Regions from separate parts of the Homo sapiens genome. Here region 2 is linked to region 1. The links come from fine-mapping of genetic effects on gene expression. A gene starts in region 1. The other region holds a variant in brackets. All regions are shown on one strand. Distances are between the middles of the regions.

Region 1 (2,905 bases):
AAACTTACACTGGATGTTAACAAATTAAGAAGGCAAGTTGAATGTTCACGAAAAATTGGACAGGGCAGCGTTAAGCACAAATGCTTAACGTGAATCTTTCTTCGTATTATATGTAGAGATCTAAACTGTCATAATTCTCTGTCTGATAAGATTTATAATTCTGCTACTGACGTCAGCAATTCAAGTCCACAAATTCGTGTTCTATTAATATTAAATAAAGAAAAGGATATACATTATGGCAAAATTTATTTTCTAAGATCAGAGGTGATGGATTCAACAGGAGGGTGTTAGAGTGTGTTTTGTCTATGCATGGGTTTAAAAGATAAGAAAAAAAAAAGCCCTAACCCTTCATCCTCAGGCTCCTGAATGTCTGTTTTGACACCCAGGTGGATGTAGTGGAATGACACTTCCAGCATCCCCAGAAGACTGAGGGCTAGAATGCCAAGCTTTTCCAGCAAATGTTCGTAGTAAAGTTACCAGGCATTTCTATACAATTTGTTTTTTTCCAGATGAGTTGGGCTTGTTCTTTCCTAGAAGCAATTATGATGCTAATAGGAGTGGCTGGCACACAAAACAGGGTAGCTATGAATTCAGCGGCACCTTGAATCTAACAAGGGGCTCCAGGTCATTCTTTGCTCACTTCTTCTTCCATCTGTCATTGAAAATTGGAGAGCATTTGATTAAGATCATTATAGCAGTTAGCAGTCTGATTCCAGCACTGGAAAGCAGGGAAGTAAAGGGCTATTTCCACCCCCGATCGATGCTGCCAGTTTTAAATGGCATCAAGCCCCTGACCTCCACATTGTCCCAAAATGATCTCAATAGCTTGTCCGGCTCCTGGTGGTGGTAGTGGAAGGGACTGGATGGGCGGAACAAAATTCTTCAACCCTTCTAAACAAACAGATGTCGCTTTTCTGCCGTTCCTGCAGTACACCTGTCTGCCCTGGGAAGTACATTTCTCAGCTGCAGCCCCGCGAGGCCAAGAGCTTGAAGCTGGGTCCTGTGGTTGGGGCTGCAGGTGCTGGGCCTAAAGAGCACGAAGGGGTGCTCCGATGCCCGAGCCCTGGTGCCCAAGGTGTGTGTGTGTGTGGCGGTTGCGGGGGTGGGGTCCGAGGTTTGGAGGGCCGACCTCTTGAAGGCGGGCGGCAGCCACCAACCACATCCTGGCTCCCGCACAGACACACCCCCGGGGTGTCGGTGCCGCAGCCCTCAGCCCCTCCCCGGGTAGCCAGCAGCGCCCGGTCGGCCGCTGGCCGCAGGAGAAAGTAAACAACACCCCAAGTGTCCGGGAACAAAGGCAAGTTGTCTTTCTACGGTGCCGCAGCCGTGTGCCTCTTCTGAAGAATAAGAGCTATTATTATTCTTTATGTCTTATCCTTTTTTTTTTTTAAAAAAAAAACCAAGTTTCCTTCTAAGGGAAATAAACACCAAAGGTAGGATTCCAAGGAAATGACTCACAGCGGCTGGCAGGGCTCTGGCGGGGCTGGCCCGGGCCCCCGCGCTCCAGCCCGCAGCAGATGTCGGCCCGGCCTTCCCTCCCTCCCTTGCCGGCCAAACCCGCTGGAAGCCCGCGGTTGCGGGAGCGCCCTGCGCCCGTGGGACCTGGCGGCGAGGACGCCTATTCCCTGCTTCTGCGACCACAGCTGGGCACTCGGAAAGTTGCTAGGGCCGAAGAGGCGGGAGGGGAGGAAGGGAAGCGAGAGGCGGAGGCGTGGACCAGGCGGGCAGCAGCCTCAGCCCGCCGAGGAGGTGAGCTGAGGACAGAGGAGCCGCCGCCGCCCGCAGCGCAGCTCTGCTGCCTGGGAGGAGGGTGCGGGGGCGGAGGTGGCGGGGGACAGAAGGTGTCAGCTACTGCATCAATTCCTTTTTCTTGCAAACGCGCGCTCCTGACATCCACAATCCCTCTCTCCCCACCTGCCAAGCGCCGCGGCATCCGGACCTGGGGGCACCCCTCCTACTTAACCCCTTCCCCTACGATGAGGGACTAAGCGGCCACGGAGGACCATGAGGTCTCACCAGAGCTTCTGACCCCACCCGCCCCTGGAGTTGTCTCGGTGCGCGCGGGTGGCAGCCCGAGCAGCCCTAGAGGAGGCGGCGGTTCCCGCCCTGGTGAAGGCGCCGCGGCGCACGCTAGCCCAGGGAAAAGCCCGCGCCGCCTCCGCGCCCAGCTGTGCCTTGGCCCCCACGCCGCCCCGACTCCGCTCCGGCCGCTGCGAGTCCACTCGGTGACCTCGGCACAGCCCTGGTGCCAAGAGGGCGCGCGGGAGGCCGCGTGGGTGCCCGTCTGCGAGGGCAGGAGCCCCGGGGGGCCCTCGCCCTCCACCCTGCCCGGCCCTCCCGCCCCCGCGGCCCGCGCCCAGCCCGGCTCTTACCGCGGGGTCAGCGGGGAGGCGGCGGCCGCAGCGCTTGAGCTGCTGCTGGTCCGCTCTGGGCTCGGCGCCAGCCCGGCCGCCGGTGCACACTCGCGGGTCCCGGCCCGGCCGCCCGCTCGGCGGTGACTGCGGGTGCGCGGCGGGCAAGGGTCCCGGCAGGTCCCGCCGCCGCGACTGGGGCGCTGCGCCGCCGTCGCTGCAGACGGTTATGGTAATGAGCGGCTCTGTCTAGCGAGGAGCGTGTGAAACCCGTCAATCCTGTTTGCCATTTCCCCGTGGATTTCCGAGGAGAGGTTCTGCAGGATGCCCCCAGGGTGAGAGAGGGAACATGACAAGCGCGCCCGCTCTCCCTCCCTCCCTCTGCTCAGGCCGCCGCCGCCGCTCCTCAGGCTGCACACGGGGCGCCTTTCCCGCACCCCCACCCCAGCCCGCCCCCTGCCTCCTTCCCTGCTTCCCGCCCTCCCTCCTCCTTTTCCTCCCCTCCCCTCCCGGTGCCCGGGGACACGCGGGCCCAGCTCCAGCCCGCAGCCCAG
Region 2 (2,905 bases), 57 kb before region 1:
CGCCTCGGAGGATCCGGGGAGCTTTGGAGGAGGCGATGGCGGAGCAGGGCGGGTGGCAGCGCAGGCGTGGGAGGGACAGGTGGCCCGTTCGCGTCAAGTCAGGGCGCCCCCTCCTGGGACACCTGTGCCCCGCCTAGTCCCAGGGCCCAGTCCCGGGGCAGACACTGGCCGAGCCCGGAGCCTCTTCGCGTCCCCTCCCACCCAGACCAGGCCGGCGTTTCCCCCGGGCCCCCGCGCGGCTCCGGCCCGCGGAAGTCGCGCGTTCTTTCTTTCCCCCTCGTTAGTCGAGCTGAAACCTGATCGTGGAAAGTCTGGGGCGGGTGTCAGACCCGGCCAGCTCTGGCTCCCAGCGCCTGGGGCGATTCCTGCTGGAGGAACCCGGGCGGGGCCCGCCAAGGGGGCAGGAGGTCGGACACCTCGGGAACAGGCCTCTTTGTCTCTGTGCGGGTGAGGGGCTGGCAAAGCGGGAGAGGGAGTTAATTGCAGGGGCGGGGAGTGGTGGGGGGGCTGGGTAAGCCGAATGACACCTGACAGCTCTGCGAGAGCCCCCCAACCCCCGCCGCTGGGGGGTGGTCCTCCTAATCCCCTTCGCAAGAGGAAGCTAATTGCTGCAGCCAGAGAAGGCAGGATAAAAGCGAGCGGGCACCCACACCCACCAGGCCCGGAGTCTTGCTATTTGCTGCTAAATTAATATATTACCTAATGCAGAAACCACGTTAAGAACTCCAGCTTTCGGCTCCAACAGGAGCTTCTGATGGGTTAAAGGCAACATCTTGCTTTAATTCCCCCCTTTTTCCCATCCTCCCCCCACTCCCCACCACCACCAACTACAAATGTCAGAAATAAATTATTGAAACCAGATGTAAGGTTTTTGGGTGCACATTTTCAGGCAGTTGTGCGCTAACAGATGCCTTGTATTAATAATGTACAGTTGTGACAGGAAATATGGTTTAGAGTCCTGGAAAAACATGAAAGCTAATTCCATTACCCCTTTTCATGGTACCCAGTTCTTCTCAAATGTTCAACTGGTTTGGATTACAGTGAAATTCTAGAGGAAAAACGATTTGGTCTGAGATGGTAACTTGGTTCTGCTTTCCAGCTTCTCCCGTGGAACAGCACCCACCTTCCTAGGCACCTGCAGACCTGTGTTCTATATACGTGCAAATAGCCAGAGATGAGGACATCTGGACCTGGTGCCTCCCCAGGGAAGTGGCTTCCAAATATTCCCCCCTTTCCTGGTCATGAGGACCTGGTAGACAGTAAAAGCAGGGCCAATGATCCCAGCTTCATATTCTTGTCTGGGACAGTCCATTTTAACCTGGCCTACCCACTCACACTTCACTTGGAGCAAAAGTAAAAACAATAAAACAC[T/A]TTTATGCTCGAGGAACCAGATAAATCCTAGTAATTGATCTCAGGAGAGGGATTATTAAGGGGCTAAGTGCAATGCTTTCCAGAACCGGGGGTGTAATAAGCATGAAGCCAAACAAATGCGCAATTTGTTATCTGTATTTCATCACTTAATGCATTGCAAGCAACGGGTTTGAAAATGGCTTTTCTCCAGGAGGGGAGAAGGCACTAAAATAGCTGTAACACATCCATTGACAGTTCTGTTGCTGAAAAATGTCATCATTCTCCATGGCTCACACTGTCAGCCGTGCTCAGAAGGGTCAGAATATTCCCACTCTGCCATTTTTGGGGACAGATTCCCCTCCACTTTAGCCAATGTACAATGCTAAAAGAGACAACTCTCAAGGTCTTTCCCGCTGTAACCCTACACTTACGAAGAAATAACAAAGTAACCAGCAAGGATATCGAACTGCCCTGGACCCATAGATAAGAAAGGCTTTCCCTGTCCTAGACAAGAGTGAAGAAGGAAAGATATCAAAGATATCTACCGGTTCAGTTGGGTGAGACCTAAGAATTACAGCATCCAAAATAATAGCTAATCTTTATCAAGATCCTACTATCCTATCTGCTCTTACACCTGTGGCATCTAATCTTAACAATACCTGAGAAGGCAGGTGCCGTGCAATTATATCCTTGGTTATAGATGAGGAAACTGGGTTTTAGGGATGCTGGGTAATCTGCTGAAGGTTGCAGAGTTACTGGCAGAGCCAGCACTCACAATTTAATCTATTTAATTTTAAAGACTTTTAACAACCTCAACTATCATTTATTCTAATAGGTAAGGAAAGTATGCTATGAATTATGGGTAAATCCACACTGTGTCATTCTCTTAACGAAACTTTTTTTTTTTTTCAGGCTTGGTGTACAGTTGATGTCTAGAATATATTAACAGAAGGCTGCCCTGTAGAAGTTTTGAGTTAATGGTTTCCATCAACGCAGGAGTGGAAGAAGCTACTGGGGATCAGGAATCAGAAGTCCTGGCTTTAAGCCCTAGCTTTAGCCCTCACTGGTAATAAAATCAAAGCAATTGGTCTCTTTGACTTCAGTTTCTCCACTTTTAAGGTTGACCTGATAATACTTGCCCTGCTTGTGAAGAGCATGTGAAATAATAGCTATTCAAATTTTTACAAAGCACCAAGCAAATAGCTGTGTGACCTTGGGCATGTTCTTTTACTTTTCTGATCCTTATTTATCTTAACTGTGGGATTGAATGAAAGAGCATCCAACTTCACCTCCTGCTCTGAAACTGTACATTTCAAAGATGGGTGTTATGGCATAGTTTGTTGGAGCAAAAGCCAGGAAACAGAGGGTTGCCTCCCAAGAGGGAAAAGCTGAACACATTATTACACGTCCACACCATGGCATAGTATGTAACCAATGAACATGGAAAATCAGAGTATGCCAGATAGCTTGGAGGAGTTTCTATGAGGTGGTGTTGAGATGAGGAGAGAAAAGATGTATAAATGATCCCACATTGTAAAACAATAAACAGCATTCC

The links.
Region 2: its variant is fine-mapped to the expression of SERTAD4-AS1 in thyroid (GTEx, PIP above 0.99).

What each region holds. Positions count from the first base shown.
Region 1 is chr1:210,232,479-210,235,383 of GRCh38, reverse strand. SERTAD4-AS1 (SERTAD4 antisense RNA 1) reads left to right here and starts at 1,499. Exons shown (of 2, transcript NR_024337.2): 1 at 1,499-1,749. SERTAD4 (SERTA domain containing 4) reads right to left here and starts at 2,588. Exons shown (of 4, transcript NM_019605.5): 1 at 2,373-2,588. RefSeq lists an enhancer at 2,177-2,710.
Region 2 is chr1:210,289,880-210,292,784 of GRCh38, reverse strand. It overlaps LINC02602 (long intergenic non-protein coding RNA 2602), which reads left to right. Exons shown (of 2, transcript NR_183451.1): 2 at 2,263-2,447. Among named protein-coding and RNA genes, the nearest start is that of LINC02602, 1.8 kb to the left of the region's middle. The variant T/A (reference allele first, on the strand shown) is at 1,372.